Homo sapiens: one gene and its partners. The protein of the gene in region 4 interacts with the protein of the main gene of each other region in a pairwise test. Each region holds a gene or a part of one and is shown on either strand. Other genes may lie near its edges. The genes, in order: CEP57L1, TXLNA, TCEA2 and CCDC136.

What was found.
Region 1: the proteins of CCDC136 (region 4) and CEP57L1 interact in binary tests that used the Homo sapiens proteins (3 or more experiments, as listed by UniProt).
Region 2: the proteins of CCDC136 (region 4) and TXLNA interact in binary tests that used the Homo sapiens proteins (3 or more experiments, as listed by UniProt).
Region 3: the proteins of CCDC136 (region 4) and TCEA2 interact in binary tests that used the Homo sapiens proteins (3 or more experiments, as listed by UniProt).

What each region holds. Positions count from the first base shown.
Region 1 is NC_000006.12:109,168,485-109,174,924, reverse strand, and holds the end of CEP57L1 (centrosomal protein CEP57L1), read right to left. Parts: 3' UTR 507-6,440; downstream 1-506. UniProt on the Homo sapiens protein: Centrosomal protein which may be required for microtubule attachment to centrosomes.
Region 2 is NC_000001.11:32,182,648-32,189,675, reverse strand, and holds part of TXLNA (alpha-taxilin), read right to left. Parts: intron 5,152-7,028; coding exon 5,060-5,151; intron 1,723-5,059; coding exon 1,552-1,722; intron 1-1,551. UniProt on the Homo sapiens protein: May be involved in intracellular vesicle traffic and potentially in calcium-dependent exocytosis in neuroendocrine cells.
Region 3 is NC_000020.11:64,059,290-64,066,213, forward strand, and holds the start of TCEA2 (transcription elongation factor A protein 2), read left to right. Parts: upstream 1-3,908; 5' UTR 3,909-4,023; coding exon 4,024-4,095; exon of another isoform or gene 4,096-5,063; intron 5,064-6,924. UniProt on the Homo sapiens protein: Necessary for efficient RNA polymerase II transcription elongation past template-encoded arresting sites.
Region 4 is NC_000007.14:128,815,965-128,822,655, reverse strand, and holds the end of CCDC136 (coiled-coil domain-containing protein 136), read right to left. Parts: intron 4,899-6,691; coding exon 4,797-4,898; 3' UTR 4,792-4,796; intron 3,526-4,791; coding exon of another isoform or gene 3,345-3,525; exon of another isoform or gene 1,612-3,344; intron 858-1,611; coding exon of another isoform or gene 566-857; 3' UTR 526-565; downstream 1-525. UniProt on the Homo sapiens protein: May play a role in acrosome formation in spermatogenesis and in fertilization.

The DNA of each region.
Region 1 (6,440 bases), on a different chromosome or scaffold from region 4:
CTCTGTCTCCCAGGTTGGAGTGCAGTGGCATGATCATGGTTCACACGGCCTCCATCTCTGGGGCTCAAGCAATCCTCCCATCTCAGCCTCCCAAGTAGCTGAAACTACAGGCATGCATCACTATGCCTGGCTAATTTTTAAATTTTTTTTGTAGAGATGAGGTCTCACTATGTTGCCAAAGCTGGTCTCAAACTCCTGAGCTCAAGCCATCCTCCCACCTCAGCCTCCCAAAGGACTTGGATTACAGGCGTGAGCTACCACGCCCAGCCTGCGTATTAATTTTTAAAAACCATCTTTTTTCTCCTCAAAAAGGAAGGCATAGTTCTTTGTAATAGTCCATTTGTAATTACACAGCTTTCTTTCTCCAAAGTCAATGTCCTTTCTCCCTCAGAAATATGCTGGAGATTGAACAGTCAGAAAAAAACATCATTTGAACACACTATTTAGGGATATCTAACTCCAACAGACAAATCTACCATGAAAAAGAACAAAATATACACAGTGAACAAACTTGGAAATTGTTTTTATGTAACTTTAGAGCAAAGGGTAGAAACTTTACAGAAGGTTTTGCTTGGTTTGTGTAACCATTCTACAAATAAGCCTGGATCTGTGATGGGATGGGAATGATTGCTGCCAGCTTGTCTGGAACATTATGACCTCTGCAAGAAATCTGAAAAGTTCTCAGTGCATAACATACTCTCTCCCTTCTCAAAAGAAAAGAGTAAAGTATCCATCTTAGACACTGTAATTTATATCCATTAGGCCCTATCTCCTAACACTGCTTCATTGGAGATGGTTTCCAACACAAGGTTTTTTTTTTTTTTTGAGACCAAGACTCACTCTATGGCTCAGGCTGGAGTGCAATGGCATGATCTCGGCTCACTGCACCCTCTGTCTCCTGGGTTCAAGCGATTCTCCTGCCTCAGCCTGATGAGTAGCTGAGACTACAGGTGCATGCCACCACACCCAGCTAATTTTTTTTTTTTTTTTAGTAGAGACGGGGTTTCACCATGTTGGAGGCTGGTCTCAAACTCCTGACCTCAAGTGATCCACCTTCCTTTGCCTCCCAAAGTGCTGGGATTATAGGCGTGAGCCACTACGTTCAGCCCCAACACATGGCTTTTGAGTGACATATTGAAATCATAGCATGTGACTGATTTCTATTTCTAATGGACACAGAAAAATTCTGCCGGGCACAGTGGCTCATGCCTGTAATCCCAGAGCTTTGGGAGGCTGAGGTGGAAGGATTGCTTGAGCCCAGAGTTTGAGACCAGCCTGGGCAGCAAAGTGAGACCGCGTCTCCTCAAAAAAAAAAATTTTTTTTTTTTTTTAATTAGCCAGGTGTGGTGGCATGCACCTGTAGTCCCAGCTACTTGGGAGGCAGAGGCAGGAGGACTGCTTAAGCCCAAGAGTTTGAGGTTGCAGTGAGCTTTGATTGCATTCACTCCACTCCAGCCTGGGTGACAGAACAAGACCCTGAAAAGAAAAAAAAAAAAAAAAGAAAGGTAGGGGGCGGGCTGAGGGGGAAGGAAAGGAAAGATTCCTTTCTTCTTTATCTCAAACTCTCAATAGGCCACCCTTGAATAAACTGGAAGGAAATAATATTCTTTAAATGGTCTCATGTTCCAACTGACCTTTTAGGATTCAGGAAAAAAATTAATAAAAATTATTAATATAACTTGTAAGTAATACAGTGTCAGGAAAATGCAAAAATAATACTGTAGAAAATGACACAATTAAAAAGTACACAAACAATGGTATACATGGTTAAATATTACACAAAAGTATCCCTTTACTTTTCACAGACATGTGGCTATTTGCATAGGTTCAAAAAAAACATGTTCTCCTTCCTACCAGGCAATAATTAACAAATCACTTTTGTAACCATCACCATGCCACACATCTCATTAAAGTAGATATGGCAAACCCATTATTAAGCAAAGCAGTCCAAGCAACTTGGCTGAGGTAAATTGACCGGTTCTTGGTTCCTGACTTCAGTATAGTATGTGGGCAGTATCTTACACATAAAGAAATGACAACCTCTTGGGCTTGAAAAAGCCTCCAGACAAAGTTAACTCCTATGTTGTAGTAACACATGGCCCTAGTTTTATTAACTAGACTTATAAGAAGGTCTTTGTATACTAAGCGTAACCTTTTATCACACTCACATAATAAAACTAGTCATCAAACTAATGATACTAAATCAGAAAATCACTAAGCAAATTTATGGCCAATTCCATGCTTTAGGAGGAAATTTGGAGGCAAGACTGACACCTTAACCAGAGGCCATGATAGGTAAGCAATGCACATCACTTTTGGGTCAGAAAACAAAAAACAATACCGCAGTAAAGGATCAACATAGCAAGTCTTGATTGTGTAAACTTTTCACATTCCAAAGAAATGTTTGTCCTGTGTCCAGATTCAAGATAACCTCTAAGTCCTTGGACTATCCTGCCTGATATGAATGTTTTAATTTACTTGGGGGCCTTAGGCCATACCAGGTAGTCTAAGCTAACAATGTGATTAATGGTGAAGTCCTTAGGCCATGTAGTATCAGCTCCATCTTTGGAGGGGCTGAAAACTGAAGGTCAGCCACATGGGCTATCAGTCATGCTATGCCTACGTGACCAACCCTCAAGAAAAAATCTGGACACCAAGGCTTGGTGGAGCTTCCCTGGTTAGCAATTCTCCAAGAATGTTGTCACACATTGTTGCTGAGAGAATTATGGTCTGTCTGCTGAGAGAATTATGGTCTGTCTACATGACTTCACAGGTGAAGGACAACTGGAAGCTTGTGCCTGGTGTCCCCCAGACTTTGCCCTATGTGCCTTTTTTCAGCTGCTGATTTTAATATATATTCTTTTGCTATAATATACCATAACCATAACTTAACAGCTTTTCTGAGTTCTGTGAGTCCCTCCAGTGAATCACTGATCCTGAAGGTGGTCTTGGGGACCACCCGAGATAAAACACTGAGGTAAGGTTAACAACAAAAACAGTCACCACACTGTCTAGTTCTCATTTCCCATGTAAATGAAACCTTGAGCCTTTCCTGTAAATTACTAATAACTATATCCCTGGTCTTGGCAATGCTGATATCTAAGGATACATGATGACCTCTGATATGATGATTATCTGAGGAAACTGTTTTCCACCATGAAAAGAATAACTAAACTTGGTGACTTTGGTAATTTTGTAGGTTTTTTCATTTTTTAATTTGATAAGCCTGTCCTCCTAAAGCTTGTACTCCCTTGCAAGACTTCTTTGCATATAAACTCCTAAATGCTTTAATCTTTTAGTGGTTTATGTTTTTTATTTCTGTAGATGGTAGTTTAAACTGATAGTATTTTAGTAGAACGGTTTAAGAGAATCAAACTCTAGGCAGGGCGCGGTGGCTCACACCTGTAATCCCAGCACTTTGGGAGGCTGAGGCGGGCAGTTCACCTAAGGTCAGGAGTTCGAGACCAGCCTGGCTAACACGGTGAAACCCCGTTTCTATTAAAAATGCGAAAAAAAAAAACAGCCGGGTGTGGTGACGCATGCCTGTAATCCCAGCTACTTGGGAGGCTGAGGCAGAAGAATCGCTTGAACCTGGGAGGCGGAGGTTGCAGTGAGCTGAGATCGCGCCATTGCACTCCAGCTTGGGCAACAAGAGCGAAACTCCGTCTCAAAAAAAAAAAAATCAAACTCTACTTTGTGGCATTATTTATGGGAATGCTCTGAGAATGAGAAATCACAGGCAAATATATCATACCCAAACACCAAAGGCACAGCCCTCTTTCGACTTGAGAGCCATTCTGTAAAAGAACAAAGAAAAAAGAACCTGTTTGAAATTTTGGCTTAAGTGTCCACCATTTAAATCATACCTTGAGAGAATCAAGAATGTAATACTGATATAAATTTTTCTAAGCTTATAAAGGAGAAGTTATATACATAAAATAGAATAAGTTTTTTAAAAAATCAATTATTTTTTAGATTAAAGTAAAAGCAGATATCTTTAAAGTAACTTGTTTTTAACTCTGGTACTGACTTTCCCAGCTTTAAATTGGTAGCTTGGTTCATTTCAGGGAAAATGAAGGCAATAATGCTTTTTATGTGTTCAAGCATTTCAACAGTGCTATTCTCTCACATGTATTACATATTTTGGATAAGCTATCTCTGAAAATATTTTGTAAGATATTAAAGATACTTTTGCTAGAAATTGTAAGTTATAAAACCATAAATGTTCCACAGACTTCTCGAGAGCTTTTTAAAATTTAATTTTAAGTGGGTTTCCTGTGCACCAAAATGGTTTATGTTTTAAATAACACATTTGTAAAGTTAAACGGATCTACAGTGATGAAGAGTGAAATACTTTCCAATTCAGCAAGATTCTGGACAATTGCCCTGTAAACATCAATCTTGTATTTCAGGCATGAAATGATTCACATTCTGTACTAGGTTCAGTAACAGGTTTTTCTAAGAAATACCAAAGGTCAATGTACATTTAACTTTAAGGCAAACTAACAACAACAACAACAACAACAAAATGCCTCTCAAGGTTTTTTAGAACCTATCCTAAAATTTACTTAACTACATTAAGCCAAGTCAGGTTGAAAAGTACATTATTTTACATTATTTTAGCTGATTGGAAGGTCTGGCTCACTTTACAATCCTCTGTTCTTAAAGACTAAGATTTCTTTCTTTAATTGTTTAGGTTAACTTTAGTAATTTGTAGTGGTGAATAAACTTCTACAAGTGGGTAGAATCCCATTACAATGGGATTATATTTGGTGGCCTTATTATTGCTCATTACCCTATAACACTTCTTCCTACCTTCTGACCATTGTCCAGAGCAGAGTGGCTTTGCTGATATGGTTATAAGAAATCTATTAAATAGGATATTAAAGGCCAAAGAAATCCTCTCAGGAGTTAGTTTATTTAATGAAGCTATCTTTCAGGTAAGATATTTATCCACTTATTCATTTTAAAATATTCAATCAGGTTGATTGCTGAGTAAGATGACATGTTTTTAAAGAGTACTACATTGGTGGTATTATCAGGTTTTTAATTTTCATGGTGCCACTGACTGTTGATGCTCGGAAAAATAGGGTTTGTCAAATAACAGATCTTTGCTCTCTTCAGATTGGAGACATGCAGATAGTTTTTCTCCGACAAATCTCACATTCTTATTGGTTGTAAAACTGTCTGAAGCACCTACAGAGCAAATTTCTTTCTTAATCATAAGACTCATGCTTGGTTAGATTTTACCAAGAGGTAGCATAATGAGGTCATTTTGTTAAGGGATTCATACTGAATGTATTTATTTGCCCACATTAGAAAACCAGTATTTCTCTAAGGTAAGTTGGCTAGTGTTTGAAAATTGTATTCTATAGACCAGGAAATGCAACAGTATTGATTAAAATGAGACTTGTTATCTGTAAAACACATGAAACAATATTTCTGGGATAAACAATAGATTGGCACATCCATAACAGGGGACTTGGGAGTATTCCTATTTTAAATTGGCTATTCCACTTTTCTCCACACCCTTCAAATTCATTCTCACTGAATACTTATTAAAAGCCAACTTTTTCTTCCCTAAAAAACATTTAGGGCTACATTAAAAATGACAACCCGTACTCACAAAGTTTCACAAAACATAAGCTACCTTAATTATGTGTGATGCACTCTGATCTTTTTTTTTTTTTTTTTTTTTGCTGATGGAGCCTCACTCTGCTGCTCAGGCTAGAGTGCAGTGGCACAATCTCAGCTTACTGCAACCTCCGCCTCCCTGGTTCAAGCAATCCTCTGGCCTTAGCCTCCCGAGTACCCGGGATTACAGGCACATACCACCATGCCCGGCTAATTTTTGTATTTTTAGTAGAGATGGGATTTCACCATGTCGCCCAGGGTGGTCTTGAACTCCTGAGCTCAGGCAATCTGCCCGCCTCGGCCTCCTAAAGTGTTAAGATTTTACAGGCGTGAGCCATCGCACCTGGCCACATTCTGATATTTTCAATACTATTTTATATCATTTAAAAAATGCTGGCCAGGCATGGTGGCTCACGCCTGTAATCCCAGCACTTTGGGACACTGAGGCGGGCAGATTGCCTGAGCTCAGGAGTTCGTGACCAGCCTGGGCAATACAGTGAAACCCCATCTCTACTAAAATACAAAAAATTAGCAGGGCATGGTGGTGCACACCTATAATCCCAGCTACTTGGGAGGCTGAGGCAGGAGAATTGCTTGAACCTGGGAGGTGGAGGTTGCAGTGAGACGAGATTGTACCATTGCACTCCAGCCTGGGTGAAGGAGCGAGACTCCAATCTCAAAAAAAAAAAAAAAAAAAAAATGCTGGTAGTGACCCGCTAAATTGATTTGACAATCCACCGGTATGACTGTATGTACTATGAAAAACACTGACTGGATCCAACCAATGAGGAGGCTGAAGTATGCAG
Region 2 (7,028 bases), on a different chromosome or scaffold from region 4:
CTGCTTGGGAGGCTGAGGCAGAGGAGTCATTTGAACCTGGGAGGCGGAGGTTGTGGTGAGCTATGATCGCGCCACTGCACTCCAGCCTGGGCGATGGGCCACAGAGCAAGACTCCGTCCCCAAAAAAAAAAAAAGGAAGAAAAAATGCAGGCACACATGCACACATGTAAGTGCTAAGTGCCATTCTGAAGCAAGTCGGATCTCCTAAGGCCTATTCTTCCAGATTTCAGATTAATGTGCATTTGTCCCCTCTGTACCCCCAGAGACCAAGCTGTTAAAATTTAGTAACACCCAGGGTTTGCAAAGTTGTGCAGAATTAGGCACTCAACACTTTTGATGGGGAAGGCACACTGCCCCCTCACTGGAAGGCAATCCAGCAAAATCTATTAAAATGAAAAATCTGCATATACTGTGACCTAGCCATTTCAATTCCATGACTTATCCTACAGATAAGTTCTATATAACTGACCAGTGATAAATATAACAAGAATTTTCACTATAGTTCTATATGTAATAATGAAAAATTGTAAACAACCCCCAAAATGCTTTAACTAGGGCACTGATATAATATATCCATATAATGAGAAGATAGCCCTACACATACTGATAGGGAAAAATGTTATGTAAAGTGAAAAAAAGGCACAGGATATGAAATGGTACATGTATAATAATTTCATTCTAAAAACTACATGTAAGATTTTACATATAAAAAAGAAAGTTAAAAGGCTGTATTTAAACTTGGTGTAACCACAGACTGACCTCACCATAGAAGCAGCAGAACATGGGAAGGACCCAGGTTCCTGACTGACCAACGTCTGGGACAAGAGCTGCTTGTCAGAGCCAGGCCTCCGCTTACCAGGGGACTGTCATTTCATTGAGAAATACTAACGCCAGTGCATTATGGATTCTCTTAGTACTTTATCCTTCACCTTATCTAATACATGTCAAATGATTACAAGCAGTACTCTCTTAACGTAAGGCATTATTGAGAAAGTGTATTTCTATGCCACAAGCCTGCACTACTTTTTTTTTTTTTTGGACACTGAGTCTCACTCTGTTGCCCAGGCTGTAATGCAGTGATGCAATCTCGGCTCACTGCAACCTCAGCCTCCCAGGTGCAAGCAATTCTCATGCCTGAGCCACCTGAGTAGCTGGGATTATAGGCATTTGCCAGCACACTCGGCTAATTTTTGTATTTTTAGTAGAATGGGGTTTCACTGCGTTGACCAGGTTGGTCTCAAACTCCTGGCCTCAAGTGATCCATCCACCTCAGCCTCCCAAAGTGTTGGGATTACAGGTGTGAGCCACCACACCCAGCCTTGCTTTTTTACACTGATTTCATGTTGAAATTGTAATGTTTTGGATATTGGGTTAAGTATATTACTAAAATTAATTTCTGTTTTTTAGTGGCCAGAAGATTTTTAATCACTTATGTGTGCCACTGCGCCTGGCCCTAGCCTGCACTACTTTTTAAGAGGAAAGCCCATGAAAGAAACATTAAGTGGAAGTCAAGGAAACCAGAGTCACCTGTTCCAGGGGGCCCAGGCCTACCTTGAGGGAGCGGTTGTGCCGCTGCAGCTCACGGCATAGGCTCTCAAGCTTGCTGCGGGCCAGGACGGCCTTGCTGTGCTCACCGCGCAGGTGGTCCTTCTCTTGCACCAGCTGGCTCTGCTTTTTCTGTAGGAGCTTCATCTGCTTCTGTGAATTCCGGTGCTCCTCCAGCTGGGGACAGGGATAGGGAGGGCAGGTGAGCATCTTGTGGGGCCTTCCTGGTGGGGGGATCACTATGCAGGTCTAGGGTCTCCTGAGCTGCCCTGACCCTTACCCTCTCAGGCCAGGAGCACTCTCATGGGCTGATGCTGTGCCGGTGCTTACACGCTCCTCCCATGAACTCACAATAACCCCAAAGGCTCCACCGTAGGGACAGAGAAATGGTAACTCACTAGGGCAAGCAGGGGCCACACAGCCAGCAGATGCCAATTCCTATTCCAGCTCTGACTCTGGGCCACTAGAGCCACTTCAAGCTGTTGCATTTCCCCAACTTGCTGGACACTCATGCCCGAGGATGAGACCACCTGCTACCGTACCTTGTGCCTATTAACAGACAGACCCCCATCGCTCCCTCGCATTCCTTCAAAACGTTAGCGCTGCGTTCATCAGCGCTCTCCCCAACACAATTACTTTTCTCATTTGTGGCCACTTCAGTATCAACAGATAATCCTTCTAACTCCCTGGCCTCACAGTCCATCACCTCTTCCACAAACCCACTCCTTTCCCCAGCTCAGTTCCCCTCCCATGACCCTATCCAGGCCTGTACAACAGAAATATAATGCAAACCACATAAGTAATTAAAAATATTCTACTGGCCGCACTAAAAAAGTAAAAAACAGGTGAAATTAATTTTAGTAATATATGTATTTAACCTAATATCCAAAACATTACAATTTCAACACGGAATCAATGTAAAAAAGTGAGGCCGGGAGTGGTGGCTCATGCCTGTAATCCCAGCACTTTGGGAGGCTGAGGCAGGCAGATCACTTGAGGTCAGGAGTTCAAGACCAGCCTGGCCAACATGGTGAAACCGTTTCTACTAAAAAAAAAATACAAAAAAGTAGCCAGTTTGGTGGCATGCGCCTGTAATCTCAGTTACTCAGGAGGCTGTGAGGCAGGAGAATCGTTTGAACCTGGAAGCAGGACATCACGCCACTGCACTCCAGCCTGGGTGACTGAGACACTCTCTCACAAAAAGATGTTTTATATTCTTTGTTTTTGCTTAAGTCTTCAAAAGCTGATGTGTATCTTACATTTATAGCATGTTCAAATTCAAACTGGCCACATGTCAATTAGCTAGAGACGAATTTATCTTGGACAGCGCAGATCTAGACTTTGTCACTACCAGAGAGCACACCCACTATCTCAATTTCCAGCATCCCAGTCCAGGACTACCATCACCTATCTTTTTAGCTCATTCCAATCAGTATCTGTGATCCTCAGAAAGTCTCTTACCCTATAGGACCTCCAATCCATTGACTCAACCATCCTTCCACTCTCCTTTAAAATAACTACATTACCTGGCTTGGATTTCTTACACCCTCAACTCTCTTGGCCCTTCCCCAGTAGTACTGCAACCCTAGTAAAGCACCTTCCTGCTTTACACCAGTACTATAACAACCCTACTTGAAGAGTCTCACTTTAAATTCATGGCCACCAATTTCAGGAAGACCAGCAATCCCAATACAATGCATATGCTATTCACACTCCTCTCCTTCCAGACAACTATTTCATCGTTCTCATCAAATCTCAAAACACAGAAGAAACTAGAGAATCAGGGGCACAAGCTGCACATCTACCAGTCCACCTGCCCCGTCCTCTCCTCCAGTCACACAGACCTAGCCATGTGGTTACCACAGCCAAGCCCCCTTCTTGGGCAGGCCTCAGCTCCCCTCCTCTACTCACAACACCACTCTAGCAACTCATTTCCTCTCTTGCATCAGCAATTTTCCCCTGGCTGGATCACTCCAAAAGGGTGCTTATCTTCCTTATACCTTTTATTTAATCCTTACAAGAATGTCATTAGGCAGGTATGACATTCCCCATTTTAAAGATGAGTAAAGTTCCTTACAGGAAAATATTAATAAATGTGTGTGGAATGAATTAATTTTAAAATAAATACTTAGAGGCCAGGCACAGTGGCTCACACCTGTAATCCCAGCACTTTGGGAGGCTGAGACGGGCGGATCACGAGGCCAAGAGATCAAGACCATCCTGGCCAACATACTGAAACTCTGTCTCTACTAAAACATACAAAATTTAGCCAGGCATGGTGACATGCACCTGTAATCCCAGCTACTCGGGAGGCTGAGGCAGGAGACTCGCTTGAACCTGGGAGGTGGAGGTTGCAATGAGCCGAGATCGCGCCACTGCACTCCAGCCTGGTGACAGAGCGAGACTCTGACTCTGAATAAATAAATAAATAGGCCAGGCGTGGTGGCTCAAGCCTGTAATCCCAGCACTTTGGGAGGCCGAGGCGGGCGGATCACGAGGTCAAGAGATCGAGACCATCCTGGCTAACACGGTGAAACCCCGTCTCTACTAAAAAAAAAAAAAAAAAAAAAAATAGCCTAGCATGGTGGCGGGCGCCTGTAGACCCAGCTACTCGGGAGGCTGAGGCAGGAGAATGGCATGAACCCAGAAGGCGGAGCTTGCAGCGAGCCGAGATCGTGCCACTGCACCCCAGCCTGGGCGACAGAGCAAGACCCCGTCTCAAAAAATAAATAAATAAATAAATACATACATACATACATACATACATACATACACAGGCTGTGACCATCAATGGATAAATCTGTTAGTTCAAATTCTGACAAGGGACCTGATGATGGAAGAATCTGGCTGCCCCACCCCCAACCCACTGAACAATGTTACAACAAAGTGGGAAGAGCATGCTTTGCATTTATTGTGATGGAACATGAAGTACTTATGAAGAATTCTTGTCAAAAAGTTGAAGCTGAATTGGATCAAGCTTTAGAGCTAACTTCTACTTCACTTACATGTACCAGGAGGTAAAGAAGTAAAATGATACCACAGAGATGACAAAGCTAGAAGGGGGCATCCTACAAGACAGCTAGTCTAGTTTCTGTTAAAAGTCAATGTCATGGGGAATATGAGGAGGCAGTGACAAGAAGACTGCTCTGGAGTAAAAGGAAAAAGTATCAAGTGACTAGTGTTAGTTTTATTAACTGTGATAATGGCTCTATGCATCTGTATTTGAGGAAGAAGCATCAAGATCACAAGGTGTCTTGGACTCAGGCCAGGAACAAGGGCTCTACCACCTTGGAATCATTCTTTGAGAAATTTCTTTCAAGGAATATGCAGTTTCTCCTCTTGCTGCACAGCCCTGAAGAGGCTGGCTGGAAGTGATTCCCCATTTAACAGATAGTTCAGAGAAAAGCTGAACAGGAATTAAGCCACCTACTTGACTCTGCACCCCCAACCTTACACCAGGTGGCATGCTGATTTTCCCAACGCAGGGAAGGTGCCCGCGGAGGGGGGAACTGACCAGTTCAGCATACTTCTTGCACAGAGCAGCCAGCTTCTCCTCTGGGGTACTCAGAGTATTCAATGTCTGCATCAGCAACGTGATCTCCTTCCCTGAAAAGCACAGGAGCAAAGACATGCACCCTCTTCTCCAGGTGTCCCCTCCAGGCCTGGGCTCACACTCATGAGTGCTGAAGACAGCCCTCCCCATCATACTTTATATTTTGCTTGTTGATTAGCTGCCTTCCTTGCCATAAGGACCAACTCAATCCTGCCCTCACTATAGCCCCAGTACTGTCCATAGTACCATCACAGAGGATATGCTCAACAAATGCTTATCAAATGAACGACTGTACCCTAGTGAAATCTCCTTAGTAGGCACCATTGGCAGGAGAAAAAAACTGCCTGCTCTACCAATAGAAGAAAGGTGTCCCACTTATGAATTCAGGGCTACTGTTTCATACTGTTTCAATGCAAGGAAGGCCCACCCTCCTGATAGAGGTAGGATCCAAAAAGGAATAGGTATCTTAGCCTCCTTGAGAAATACTAAACTCTTGTCAACAGAGTAGCCAAACAGTGAACTTTAAAATGAAGATACTTTCGGCCAGGCAAGGTGGCTCATGCCTGTAATCCCAGCACTTTGGGAGGCCGAGGCAGGCGGATCACGAGGTCAAGAGATCGAGACCATCCTAACATGGTGAAACCCCATCTCTACTAAAGACATACACAAAAAAATTAGCTTGGTGTGGTGGCACGCGCCTGTAGTCCCAGTTACTCCGGAGGCTGAGGTAGGAGAATCGCTTGAACCCAGGAGGCGGAGGTTGCAGTGAGCCCAGATCGCGCCACTGCACTCCAGCTTGGTGACAGAGCGAGACTCTGTCTAAAAAAATTAATTAATTAAAAAAAAAAGGCAGGGTACAGTGGCTTACGCCTGTAATCCCAGCACTTTGGGAGGCTGAGGCGGGCGGATCACGAGGTCAGGAGATCAAAACCATCCTGGCTAACACAGTGAAACCCCGTCTCTACTAAAAAAAATACAAAAAAATTAGCCGGGCATGGTAGCAGGAGCCTGTAGTCCCAGCTACTCGGGAGGCTGAGGCAGGAGAATGGCGTGAACCCAGGAGGTGGAGCTTGCAGTGAGCCGAGATCGCGCCACTGCACTCCAACCTAGGGACAGAGCGAGGCTCCATCTCAAAAAAAAAAAAAAAAAAAAAAGGCAGGGTACGGTGGCCCACGCCTGTAATCCCAGCACTTTGGGAGGCCCAGGTGGGCGGATCATGAGGTCAGGAGATCGAGACTATCCTGGCTAACACAGTGAAACCCTGTCACTACTAAAAAAATACAAAAATTAGCCGGGCATGGTGGCAGGCGCCTGTAGTCCCAGCTACTCGGGAGGCTGAGGCAGGAGAATGGTGTGAACCCGGGAGGCGGAGCTTGCAGGGAGCTGAGATCGCGCCAGTGCACTCCAGCTTGGGTGACAGAGCAAGACTCCATCTCAGTTGGGGGTGGGGGGTGAAGAAGATGATACTTTCCATGTATGTGACGTTAAGATTTTTTCCTTTTTCTTTTTTTGAGATGGAGTCTCACCCTGTCACCCAGGCTGGAGTGCAATGGCATGATCTCAGCTCACTGAAAACTCTGCCTCACGGGTTCAAGTGATTCTCCTGCCTCAGCCTCCCGAGTATCTGGGATTATAGGCACGTGCCACCACGCCCGGCTGATTTTTTGTATCTTTAGTAGAACTGGGGTTTCACCATGTTGGCCAGGCTGGTCTCGAACTCCTGACCTCATAATCTGCCTGCCTTGGCCTCCCAAAGTGCTGGAGTTACAGGTGTGAGCCACTCTGCCTAGTCGTCCCTAAGATTTTTTAAAGTTCCTCTTTAAAGTAAGAGGATACATAAGGGGAAAAGGGAATAGGAATAAAACATGGATATAATGACACTCGACTTAGATTCTAGATTCTTTTTTTTTTTTTTTGAGACAGAGTTTCA
Region 3 (6,924 bases), on a different chromosome or scaffold from region 4:
GTTGAGACGCCTCGCACTGTTCCCTCCCATCTTGCCCGACCGCCCCCCACCAGCTCCCAGGCCCAGTATGTCTCTGTCCCACCCCATCGTCTCTATAGGCCCTGTCCTGCAGTGGGTTCTGTCCCTCCCTGCAGCTTGGTAAGGTTGTTGAGGCTTCAATACACACTCCAGACCACATCCCTCTCCCTCCCAACTCTGGGACACTCTCTGCACCTCTGAAAAGAAACTCCCAGCCCTTCTTGTGCCTCTCCCTTCCTCTGGGCACCCCTTGTTCCTTATCCATCCTGGCTGGCCTGTGGCCTGTACTTCTGATCTGCACACAGGTATCACAGAGGACAGAGACCCCAGGGCCCCAGCCCCTGGTGGGGGCGGGGAGTGCAAGGGGGCAGTCGTCTTTGTTCTCGACCAGCTCCCAGCTCCCTAGGTAATGCTTTAAGAGTTACCGTGCTAGGGGATCTTTGTGGCTGAAAACATTCAGATGAACCAGATATTTAAAAGCATCCCTCATGCAAAGTCCCTCCACTGGTTGGGCCGGCCTGGGGAGGGTCAAGGCTGGGTCTCTAGTCTGGTTTTCCGGGGGCGTCTGTGTGCACTCCTTCCCCAGAACCTTGCGCTTGTCCATCCCAGGGAGAAATCAGGTGGGGAGCGGCCTCACTGCTGGCTCCTTGATAGTGACTTGCTCCAGAGGTCCGTGCTGATACCCCAGACCCCGCCCCACCAACACTTCAACTGGGACTGCGGCGTATGCACAACTGCACAGCCTCCTCTGGCAGCTCCTTGATGCTTCTGGGACGTTGACCCTCTCTCCTTTGCACCTCCACTCTTAGGAACTTGCAGCTCTCTGGGGTTAGTTCTCCTCTGTGCTGTCTGGGCTGCACCTCCTGCCCAGGAGGGGCCTCTCTGTGCTGCAGCCCTTACCAGCATCTCAGGATCTGCAGTCCTGATACTTGGAGGTCTCCCCCCCACCCCCAGCTTGAGGGCTGGCTTCCTTTCGGTGGTCTTCAAATCAACTCACACTCGGCCGTTGGAGAAGCCTATGTGTCTGGCCAGGCAGGCTCCATGGATGTGGCCAGTGTCTTTGTGGACGGTGGGAACCAGCTTTGAAACCCTGGCCGCCCGGACCTCCGAAGCCAAACTTTCTGGGGTTCCTGCACAAGGGCAGTTCCAGTGTGGCTTCTACAGGACCCTGACCAGCTCCTTGGTCTGGCTGTCAGCCATTGAGACAGTGGTTGAAGGCTGGGTGGCTCTAGCCTCCCCTCGTGCCTCTGATGAGGCTGGACCCTTCAAGTCTTCATATATGCCCAAACCATGGGATTCTGACCACGAGGACTTGCTTGGATGGTCTAGGCTGGAAGCTATGTCCCCAGCTCACTGTGAGGGGCAGAATCAGTCAGTATGGAAACCGTGTTCATCTATTAATAATAATAATAATATAATATCGCGGGGCCTCTGTCTTAGAAAGGCTTTGCTCCTCACAAGGAATTCTATGCTTTTTCCCTATGATTGAGCTTTTTTTTTTTGCGACGAGTCTCACTCTGTTGCCAGGCTGGAGTGCAGTGGCATGATCTCGGCTCACTGCCAGCTCCGCCTCCCGGATTCAAGCGATTCTCCTGCCTCAGCCTCCTGAGTAGTTGGGACTACAGGCGCATGCCGCCATGCCCGGCTAATTTTTTTTTGTTTTTTTGTATTTTAGTAGAGACGGGGTTTCACCCTGTTGCCCAGGCTGGTCTCAAACTCCTGAGCTCAGGCAGTCCACCTCCCAAAGTGCTAGGATTACAAGCATGAGCCACCGCGCCCAGCCTGAGTCTTTTTTTTTTTTTTTTTTTTTTTGGAGACAGTCTCACTCTGTCACCCAGGCTGGAGTGCAGTGGCACAATCTGGGCTCACTGCAACCTCCGCCTCCTGGGTTCAAGTGATTCTCCTGCCTCAGCCTCACAAGTAGCTGGGATTACAGGCATGTGCCACCACGCCCGGCTAATTTTTTTTTTGTTGTTGTTTGTTTTTGAGATGGAGTCTTGCTCTGTTGCCCAGGCTGGAGTGCAGTGGCATGATCGCCGCTCACTGCAAGCTCCGCCTCCTGGGTTCATGCCATTCTTCTGCCTCAGCCTGCGGAGTAGCTGGGACTACAGGCGTCCGCCACCACGCCCGGCTAATTTTTTGTATTTTTAGTAGAGATGGGGTTTCACCGTGTTAGCCAGTATGGTCTCGATCTCCTGACCTCGTGATCCGTCTGCCTTGGCCTCCCAAAGTGCTGGGATTACAGGCATGAGCCACCATGCCCGGTCTAATTTTTGTATTTCTAGCAGAGACAGGGTTTCACCATGTTGGCCAGGCTGGTCTGGAACTCCTGACCTCAGATAATCCGCCCACCTCAGCCTCCCAAAGTGGTGGGATTACAGGGGTGAGCTACTGTGCCCAACCAAGATGAGTCTCTCTCTCTCTTTTTTTTTCTTTTGAGACGGAGTCTCGCTGTTGTTGGCCAGGGCTGGAGTGCAATGGTGCTATCTTGGCTCACTGCAACCTCCGCCTTCCGGGTTCCAGCAATTCTCCTGCCTTAGCCTCCCAAGTAGCTGAGATTACAGGTGCCCGGCACCACACCTGGCTAGTTTTTGTATTCTTTGTAGAGACGGGGTTTCACCATATTGGCCAGGCTGGTCTCGAACTCCTGACCTCAGGTGATCCACCCGCCTGGGCCTCCCAAAGCGCTGGGATTACAGGCATGAGCCACTATTGCCCGGCTAAGATGAGTCTCTTAACTGACCATATTTTCCTTTTCATTTTGGCTGCGGGGAAGCTCAGTTATATGTGATTAGTGCCACAGACAGCCCAAGAAATGCTCAGCCCATTCCACCTGCCACCTGGCCTCATAGTTCGTTGGCCTGAACTTGAATGACTACAGGCTCCTTGATCCACACCCTCCCCCAGGATTGTGCCCTCTCCAGGAAACCACCCAGCATCTGCATTACTGGGGAGCTGCCAGGCAGTGGTGGGGATGCTGGCCCTGCACCTGTCCCCGTCCTCAACCCTCCCTAGGCCTGGGCCATCTCTCTGGCTGCCTGCAGTCTGGCCCTACCTAGGGACCTCCAACAACAATGTCAATGAACACTAATTGTCATGCTCCATCCCCTCTCTGTTCTCAGGCATGTGATGTGAATCAGCTGACATCATCTTGACGGGAGCCCTGTGAGGCGGACACTTAACTCCAGTTTCACAGGTGGGGAGACTGAGACACAGTGGTCAACGTGCAGAGCCCAGAATCTGCTCCCTGGTAGCTGACTTTGCAGGCAGGGGCCTTGCCCACGCAGCCTCGGCAGAGGCCCCCGCACTTCGCGAACCCCAGCAATGGCCCCTTCCAGACGCCACGTCCAGCTACCGCGCGCTCACACCTGCAGGGCCCCACAAGAGGCCTCCCAGTGTGCGCGGGCCTCTTGAAGAAGTAACTCTACTCAGAAGCCCGAATGACCCAAACTGGGCTCTGGGAGGCTGGGGACGGCCTTCTAGGCCAAGTGGGGCGCGCGCAGGGCTCAGCGGGGCCCAAGAGAAGGGCTGAGGGCACTGGGTCCTGAGCCACCCACCGAAGGACGCCGCGGGACAGCAAGGCCCGAAGCAGGAGGAGAGAAGGGAGCAGATTCCTGGGCCTCCTGGGGCCCGGTCGCTCCGGGATGTCTGAGCTCTGGGAGGGGCGTGCCCGGGGCGCCTCCCTCGCGGGGTATTGTGGGATCACGAGTCACTGGCGACGGTGGGTCAGGACTACACTTCCCAGGAGGCTGTGCGCGCCGCGTGGCGCCTGGGAGTTGTGGTCCAGAGCGCGGGCGCGGCGGGCGCGGCAGGCGGGCGCGTGGACTACGCATCCTAGGATGCCGCGCGCGGCCGCGGGGCCGAGGGTTTGAACCGGGGGTCTGTCGTCCGCGGCGGGGCTGCGTCGGCTGCGGCGGGTGTGGGAGGTGGCGACGGCCGGGGCCGGGGTCCTGCCCGGCTGCGGAGGCGGGCGCGACGGGCGCGGGGGTCGCTGCTCCTGAGGCGATGATGGGCAAGGAAGAGGAGATTGCGCGGATCGCCCGGAGGCTGGACAAGATGGTGACCAAGAAGAGCGCGGTGAGGGGCGCGGGCCGCCAGGACCCCGGGAACCCCGCCCCGCCGAGACCCCGTCGAGCCCGCCGACCCCCGTTAGGGCCGGAAGACGACCTGAGGGGCAGGACGAGACCCCTCCCCGGCAGAGACTAACCGGGACGCAGGGGAGACCCCCACCCGTGGCCGAGACCCCTGCCCCGGGCCAGCCCTGCCGTTCACTCCCGCAACCCCGGCAGAGGCCGCGATCAGGCCTGGACCTTGTCCCGGGAGAGCCACCCGCTCTGGACTCAGACCCCTCCCTCGCCCGCAGTCACAGGCTCCGCACCCTTCCCTGTCCCTTAACTCCAGACCCCCAGCCTGGCCCGTCGACTCCTTCCTTGGCCCTGTCCCGCCTCTCGGAGCCCCCGGGGTGTTCGGGCCTCCTCTGCGGGCCGCGCCAGCCCCTTGCCTTCCTCCATCCCGGCCTGGGCATCCTCACAGGCCGAGCCCCGCCCCCCAACTCAGCCCTCTCCCACGCTCCGTCTCTTACAGCGTTTGTCACCCTCCGTCTCCCATAGCATTTGTCGCCGGCAACAGTTTGGAGTCTGAGGTTGGATCCCCTTTTCTTCTGGAGCTTCCGTGCCTCCCCTGCCTCTTCCCAGCCCTTGTCATCCTCCTTCACAGGCCAGCCAGATACCTGTCTTGCCTGTGGGCCCATTTTCTTCCCTGTCTGTCCCCACCCCACAAGAACCAGGTTTCTCTAATAAATTCTCTCCCTTCTTTAGCCAGGACTTAGCCCGCAGCAACTTGGGTTGTGGGTAGTTATGTGGACACCCTCCGAAAAGAGCCGGTGTGCTTATATAAGAGCCAGGAGGTCGGGCAAGCCTCCTCTGGGAGTGTCTGGGCGCTGGAGCCTCTGGCCGGCTCTGTTCACTGCGGCCTGGGCCTCTGTTGTCTTGCGGCCACAGCGAGACTTTGGAGGAGGCTGTGTGTGAGGACTTTGAAGGGGCCAGGTCAGTGGGGGTCCAGTTCCAGCGTCATGACCTTGGCAACCTCTGCACCCTCCCACAGAAGCATCTTTAGAGGATGCTGCCTGCCTCCTGGGGGGTGGGGAGGGGTCTGGCCGCAGGTCATTTGGAGCTCCTGGCTGGCTCAATAAACGTGACCTGTGCTTTCCCACCCAGACTGTGAACTCCTGGGGCAGGGCCAGCTGTGTGTCTGCCAGGCCAGCCCAGGGCGGTGAAGGTGGCTGAGTCATGGGCTTTGGGTGATTTGTGCAGCCACCCCAGGGCTGTGTGACTGCAGTGGGGGTTTGGGGGAAGCTTTTTGGGCTGAGCAGGGTTGAGTCTGGGTTCCTGTGACCAGCGTTCTGGACTGGGGTCTGCCCTGGGAAGGGGTGGGCTCCCACTCATTCCTGCTGGGTGCAGCACCCCCATCATTGCGTTCACACACACCCCGGAAAACTGGTCAGCACAAAGTAGGGGTCTGCGAACCATTCATAGCTGTTTCCAGAGATGACCCGAGAATGGAGTTGTTCCCCTTCTTAAAGGAGACAAAACACAAACGATAAAAGCTGTAGGTGGGAGAAGCAAAGATGGGTCATGGAGCCAGGGGAGGGCTGGGTGGGGCTGGGCAGAACTGATGGGGGGTTTCTGGTGGAAGAACAGCTTGAGTAGAAGCCCCAGGGGAGAATGAGGAGGGGAGGCGGGCGCTGTGCAGTGGGGAGTGGGAGCCAGCAGAGCCTCCTGGGGGTCCCAGTGCCTGAGGTCCCCTCGGGGACCTGGGGGCCAGGTGTGGGGGTTTTTTTGCCTCTGGACCTGAGCCCACTGAGAGCCACGTAAGCAGGTGCAGGGCTTTCAGGGGACAGTGGCCTTGGCTCTGGCTATCACCTCAAGGCTGGACTCTGTACAGCCCAAGAGGCAGGGCCTGCCTGGGAGGGCTCAGGAGGGGCTGCAGCGTGAGCAGACTATGCCACCCGGATTGCTGGGGTTGTGCGGGCGGTAGGTGGGACAAGCCCCTCCCATGGCCTGTGGGTCGTGGGACTCTGATCAGGTCACCTTAGGGCAGAGGGAATGATACACACGTGGAAACACATGCACGTGTTACAGAGGAGATGGGGTGTTGCAGGGCACAGTTGCAGTTTTAAACAGGAGAGGCCTTGCTGAGAAGGTGTTGTTGAAATAAAGCCCGGGAGGGAGGGAGGGAGGGAGGGAGACGTTGTGGGAGGCCGCCCCAGGCGGTGGAGCTGCAGGTGCAGAGGGCCTCGGTGGCGGCTCAGCGCCCTTGGGGAGCACTGAGTTGCCGGGCCTGGTGTGGAAATGTGACCGGTTTGTGCCTGGCCTCGTCAGTGTTGAGGACCTGGAGGAAACGCAGATCTTGGGTGGGGAGACAAGGCGGAGAGAACGAGGTGCATTGGAACAGTCCAGGCGAGGGGTGCTGGCCTGCTTGGGGGCAACTCAGAGGCCTGGAGGATAGATGAGGAGGGGGGCTGTGGGCCTTGTAGGTGTTGGCTGTGGCCGTGCCTGGAGTGGAGGGACCCTTGAAAGTTTGGCCTCAGCTCGGGACACTGATGTTCCCGGGTTGGCCCTTCATGAGAGTTTGGCCTCAGCTCGGGACACTGATGTTCCTGGGTTGGCCCTTCACAGCTGGTGGGCGGGGGGTGCTTTGGGGAGAGGCTGCCCTGCGCATCAGGGCATCAAGACACAGGGGAGTGAATGAACCTGGGGCTGCAGTTTCACCTGGGTGTGGCCCTGGCTGCTGGGGAGGGGCCGTGGCTCTGAAGCCTCATGATTGGCCAGGGGAGCTGGCATTTCTGTTCTGGTTTGGGTCAGTGACCTGAGGTGGTTACAACGAAGTCAGTGAGGTCATTGCCAC
Region 4 (6,691 bases):
ACAGCTTTACACTGTTGCTAGTGCCTGGTACTTCACTATTTTTTGTTGCTTCTCCTAACTCTGCCTTTGGTACATAGTCTCTTCATTAAACTCTCTTCATGTAAAGCTTTGAGTGTGCCACCTGTTTACTGCCAGGACCCTGGCTGATTAAAGTCATCTCTGAGGGCGAATCCCTTGAGAAGTCACAAAGGCTAAGTCACGAAGGCACACACGTGGATCTTCTTAGGGCGGCCTTCTCATGTAGATAGGTGTGGGCACAGAACCTTAGGGGAGGTCTCCCCAGCCCTCAGTCACTCCATTTCTCCATGCTCAGGAGAGCACCTCAGGATGGGGTTAATAAGCACAGACTAACCCCTCTGTGAGTCAGTCGACAGCACAAGGGGCTAGCCTCATTTCTGAGGCCATCTGCAAGGTGAGAAGCCGCATTTAGGAGTCAGACCCTTATGTGAGGTACTTGGTTAAAGGGGGACTGCTCTGTTCTGGTTGTGTTGTGAGGCATTTAGCAAATAAAAATCCACAGTCTCATGTAATTCAGTTGATATTTAATTACAAGGAACTCAGGTTCTTACACAAGGCAGGAGATGGAAGTCAGCCGCTCCCCACAAGCCTTTTCAGCCTGGGTGACTGAGGCTGAGGAGATGGGGACACATGGAACATATGGGGAGGGTTCTGGCACAGTGTGTCCTGCCCAAAGCTGAGGGTGGTGGCCACTGGGGATCTGCCCTCGCGCTGGCCAAGGTCTGCCATCACTCCATGAGGCAGAACTCTGACTCCTGCTGTCGCATGTTGGGTAACACATACAGAGCCACAGCTGCAATAGCCAAGAATACCATAGGCTTCCACAACCCAAACATGTTCTGTGGGGACCAAAGAGAAACTGTGAGTGCCCAGCCTCCTGAACCCTGCCCTAAGCCAGAAGTCACCTGCCTATGGGTGCCCAAGACACCTCAGGAACATTGTGGATCAGTCTCTGTTACCTCCTGGGTAACCGGTGGAGGTAAGTGATCTCTCAGTCCTGGCACCACTAGACATGTGGCCCAACACTGTACGCACCACCTTAGGTGACCGCCTGTATTCAGGCCTCCGTTTCTCCCCATGGGCTGAGAATACTAGCTCCCATGTGAAGAAGCAGGCTCAGGGGCCAGACTTCCAAGTGGTTGCAATGAGAAAGGACTGGATGCCATGGCAAGAAAGAGGAGGGGAAATCTGGGGCTTTGAGAAAAGCAGCAGCACCTCATTAGTTTCACTGCAGTGAAGTGAACTCAGAGTCAAGAGGATGGGGAAGGGGGAATAAGGCTGAGGGGAAATGAAGAAAGTGCACCACGGAGTGCAGGTAAGTAGGAGGTTCTTAGGCAGACAAACTTTGACAGAGAATGACATTGGTTCAAGGAAATTTAAGGAAACCTGTCACTGGGCCTAGGTCATTAGAACACTCCTAATCACCAGGTATGTTGACTGACTTCCTGGTGCATGTGCTAGAGTATGCTGAGGCTTCCAGACACTGCCGGCCACTAGGGAACCCTGCTGATTCATGGGACAAGTGGCACCATCGAAGATATCCAAAAAGCATCCATTAGGTAATATGAAAATCTTAGACAAGAAAATACATACTTGGGGAAATAGGTTTTATTTTTATTACTTTTTTACTCTACTAACTGAAAGGTAGAATTTGGATTTTGAGTCATAAGCTATGGCATAGGTAACAGAAGGATGGTTTCAAGTAAAAATGGAATATAGCCCATTAATGCTAAGAACACATTTTCTCAGATGATAATTGATCTAAAAAGAGGACTTTAAGCCTGCTAAAGAGCAAAGAAAATCTCCTGAGCTTATAGAAATAGCTACTAAGAACAACAGAAGGTATGAAATGGAAAGCCAAGCAATGTTACAGGTGGATATACAGAGTAACTCATGTAAGAAAACCAAGAGATCCGGAGGCTGAGGGAGGAGGATCGCTTGAGACCGGGAGTTCAAAGTTACAGTGAGCCATGATCATGCCGCTGCACTCTAGCCTCGGTGACAGAGCGAGACCCTGTCTCTAAAACCAAAAACAAAAACTAAGAAGGGAGCTAGCTAGAAAAAAATATTTATATGCTCAGATGCCTCTATCCTAATGTGCATTGCTAAGAATGTTAGTCTGGTGTTCTTAAAGGAGGGAGGAGCTGAAATCCTTAAATGTGACCCGTGCACCTCACACTGGGCAAAGGCAAGCTTCTACATGGGATGGGGAAAGGGCTGGTGTGGGTGTCCCAAAGGGGAAGTCGTGTCAAACTCTCCTTTTAAACTAGGTGACCTAAGTGACAAATCACCGGAATCATGTTTTTGGACGTTGAGTTGTTTGACAGAATTTTCTATGATCTTTGCAGATAATATGCAGAAATAAGGGTAGGATGACAGTACAGTTTGTTGAATGGCAGGTAAGTGACCAATGAGCTGAATAAAAGAACCCCAAGAGACGACACTCTAGAGGCTCTGTCCTCACTCTGTCCTCTGTAGATGAAGACAGGGAAGGAGGGCTTGCCACCCCTGTAGATGATGTGAAGGTGGCAGAGGAAGTGAATATTTTAAAACCACAGGGTCAAGATTAAAAACACATACACACAAAACCTTATAAGGTAAGAACAATGAACTATAATAGGGAAGAATGGAAAATTCTGCCTTTGAAGCCTCAAAATCAAATGCAGGTACAGAATGGGGAGAGGACGCTTAGCATACACAATCTGCAGAGGGGCTTATAAAAAATACATGAAATAAATAAATAATATATTAGTTACCTAAAGAGCTAATGTGATCTGAGGTTGCCTAAACACAAGTATGGTGTCTTCCTACTTGGGACCAATGAAGAGAAACTGCTCAAAATGAGGAGAGACAATAAAGGGAAGCAAGACTGGAATCTTATTTGTTGCTAATATTGAGTCCTTATAATCTGACTCGCAGCTTCCTGGCTGTTTTACTTAACTTCTCTATGCCTTAGTTTAATCATATATAAAAAAAAATAGGAGTAGCTTCTTCATGGGGTTGTTGCAAGGATTAAATCAGTTAATATACGTAAGTGATTAGAACAGTGCCTGACACATAAGACTGCATTTTGTAAGTGCGTGCTCTTTTTATTAATGATGGGGTATTTTATAATTTATAGAATACTTTCATCTACTTCAACCCATCTGGTCCTGACAAAAACCTGTGAGGAGGGCAGAGGTTCGATCATCCTTTGCTTACATTTGAAGAAACTAGAGCTCAGAGTGTGCATTTTGCTCCCTGGGACAACGCCTGTCAGTAGAGACAGACTCAACCAAGTTCTTCTGACCGCCTGGCAGCCACGCTTTCTACCACACTGTGCTCCCTCAGGTCCTGGCTGCACAGGTGCATGTTGGGGCCTCCTGGAGCTCTGGGGATAACAGGCCCCACCAGGAGAACCCTTCACCAGCAGTTCTTCCTCTCCCTCTGATTGGGCCGGGCTGGGTCTGAGGTAGTGGAAGGCTGTGGCTGAACTCTTTGGGTTTCACCCGTAGTGCCTTAAGACTTCTGGGGGGTGACAGGGGAGAAACAGTCATAGAGAGGGGCCCCGTCACTAAAGCAGTTGTGGACCAGGGAGTAAAGGGAATACCTAAAGTCAAGAAGAAAAGTGGAGGCTTGAAGATGAGTAACAGGAAAGCTGGGGAGGGAGCAGGAGGAAGGACAGAAAAGGAAATGGAGAGAAGTGCCACCAACAAATCCTCCAGTTGCCACCCTGTGCATTAAGCTACATTCCGTTCACAGGAATGTGAGAAGAGAGGGGAGTGGAGGGGGAGGCAGGGAAAGCATGAGAGAGGAGCCAATGCAGGACTAGAGAGAATACCTTATGGGTTCCAGAAGGCAGGTGGAACCCCAGGCTTCTACCTTAGGCCGTAAGACCACATTCTGCCTCCTGAATTTGGTATCCTGTTGACAGTGTACATTACATGTGTGGGAGCTGACAGGAAAGTGGCCAGAATATATCAGTCTTGATTTCCTGAGAACACACATCTCTGGCTAGTAGAAACTTTTCACTAATACCTCATTCTCTCCAGAAAACCTAGCTGGGGAAGCCAATTACCATGGAATCTGGCCCACAAAATAGATAAATAGATAACTAATAAAATTTCCCGGCATTCTGTTCTGACTTTTCCGGAGACTGGAAGTCCAGAAGCAGAGAACTGTTCAGTAGAAAGAGCAGAATACAGTAGGGGTTCGGTTCCATTTCACCAAGCTTGATGGACCAGCTTAGGTTGCCCTCCTACCAATGCCCCTGGGAGGATCATGAGGATCAGAGCTCTTCAGAGCTCCTCTCTCTCCCAACAGAAGAGGGATTCCTTATTTTGCCATCTTGGGTAGCAACAGTAGTGAGAACTTGGCTCCGGAGTTAAACCAAGACAAAGAGAGTCCAGGCCAGCCTTGCAAATATCAGCTCATCAGAAGTGGTCAGGCTAGCCATCACACAGAGGATGAGCGGGGATAAAGAAGTAGTGAGGCAGCTTTGACAGCAGCAACCAAGCTGGGCTTATCCAAGTTTTTCCCAGCCAAGGATTGAAACAAACCATGTCTCTGGCAAGCATTCCAACCTCCTATGCATTACGAAGACATGCTCAGAGATGTCAGAGGCTTTGCAGTAGCCCAAGGAAAAGTCAGAACTAAAACTCAGACCTGAGCATCACCTATTATAAAATGGCACAAGCAAGAAGCAAGCAGCTGGGAGAAAAGGGAAAGAGGAGAGGCCAGGGCAACCTGCACCCTCCCTCTATCCCTCAGAAGGAGAGGAAGCAATACCAGTACCTGCATTAGGACGACGTCTCAGCCCACCAGCACCAGAGCAAAGCCGAGATGACCACCAGGCCTACAAGAGGCAAGGAGAAGATGGGGGGATTGGGGGTAGGGGATGACTGCAACACACCAAAATGAGAAAGAAGCACGAGGAGAGACCAGGAGATGTGAGACATAAACGCATGGATCCAACAGATAATGAAGATGAGAAAACAAAGGGAAAAGAGAAAGGAATCAAGAGGTTAAAAAACAGGTAAGCTAGAGCAGTTGCATGTCTTTTCTGCTGCCTGGGCCTTGGTTCTTTCCACCGGCAGTCTGCAGGAATTGCAAAATTGAATGGGTTAAGCAGCAGCTAGGTCCAAGTCAGGCGGTGAGTCCAGTTTTCTTTCTGTCTCGTCACATACCTCTCATATCCTGTCAAGCAGGAGGTATCTGCATCTAGACCTTTCTTGTGACTTTTCCTAGGTCACTCTAGGAAGAGCCAGTCTTCTACCAGGTCACCTGTCCCTTTGTTCTAGCCTGCTTTCCATTAAGTTTCTTAGTATTTTGGGCTCTGGTCCCTTAGATCCCCTAGGAATCTAATGATATCATTGTAAGACAACATGCACCGAAACAAACTGACAATGGAGAAGGGCTAGTTCTTTCACTGCAACAATCTTCCAGAGAGAAACCGATTTTGCAAGGTGGTAATACACATGCCCTAGAGCTGCCTGCAAAAGACGCAGGACCCACGGGGCAAAGGGATCTCTCCATATATAGAAACATAGAATATATTTGAAGTAGAAAAATCAGGTCTAGCTTTAGAAATGTGGCACCGAAGGTAAAGACATCTGTGAGGCTCTGAACCAGCACGTGGTGGAATATGATGAGCTCAAGGAAACATGATAGTGGGAGGGGCTGCAGTGGTTCCGACTTTCCACATCTTAGGTAATGGTCCCCTGGCACAAGGTAAGCAGAGCACTGCACACTGGATCCTTAGCCAGTGCTGAAGACCAAATTGCTGGAAATTCCAGATATCCTCAGAGTTGACTGGATAATCCCACCACAAGAGGCTTTTTTTCTTTACCTCTGTTTAGAACAGAAAGAACCTGTAATGTAAGCTGAGGACTTACACAGGAAATACTCTAACTCTGTAGGGACTCTGAGCCCTGAGTTAAGTCCAGGGCAAGAATTCAGTTGCTACATACCTGCAGAGACGTACCAGTTATTAAAATATGGAAGTACTTCTATATTGTTGGTAAGTTACCTCTGGCATTCTGGCATATATATCCCAGGATACCTCCACCCCAACCTCTCAATGATCTAGCAACTGAAGGGTTAAGGCTAGGGATGGTCTCCTTGGACTAGTCTATGCTCCTACTGTACAGATGTGAAATATTTTCACTATCACTCTTGATCACTTCCAGGCCCCACCTTCATGTCCTGTGATATACAGAATCCAGGGGGCAACATGAGCCTACAAAGAAGAGATTATCCCCTGACACACCCCTAACAGCAACAACAAAGGTTAAACCTAACAGGGCACCATAGGAAAACTGGACTGAGTGACTTGCCCAGACCGACAGAAATGGCCTGAAGTAGACTTCACACTGTCAATGTCCTTCCTGCAGTGCCAAAAGAGGGATGAGGGAACACTCCCGACATAAGGAAGGTAACAAAGGCTACTACGTAAATGAAAGGACTCCAGAGACCCCACGCTGGTTCCCAGAAAAGGTGGTCATTGTGAGGTGGTTCCACAGCAAACGGGGCTGAGCCCATGATTTCGTGCAGACAGACTGCTCTCATCTCCCACTTCTGCATCTCCACCTCCCCGAAGGGTTGTGCCTTAGAGCGCGAGGCCTCCACTCCTGGAGATATCCATCCTTGGCAGGGCCACCCATTAACTCGGAGTTATCTGAGCCCAAGACCCCAC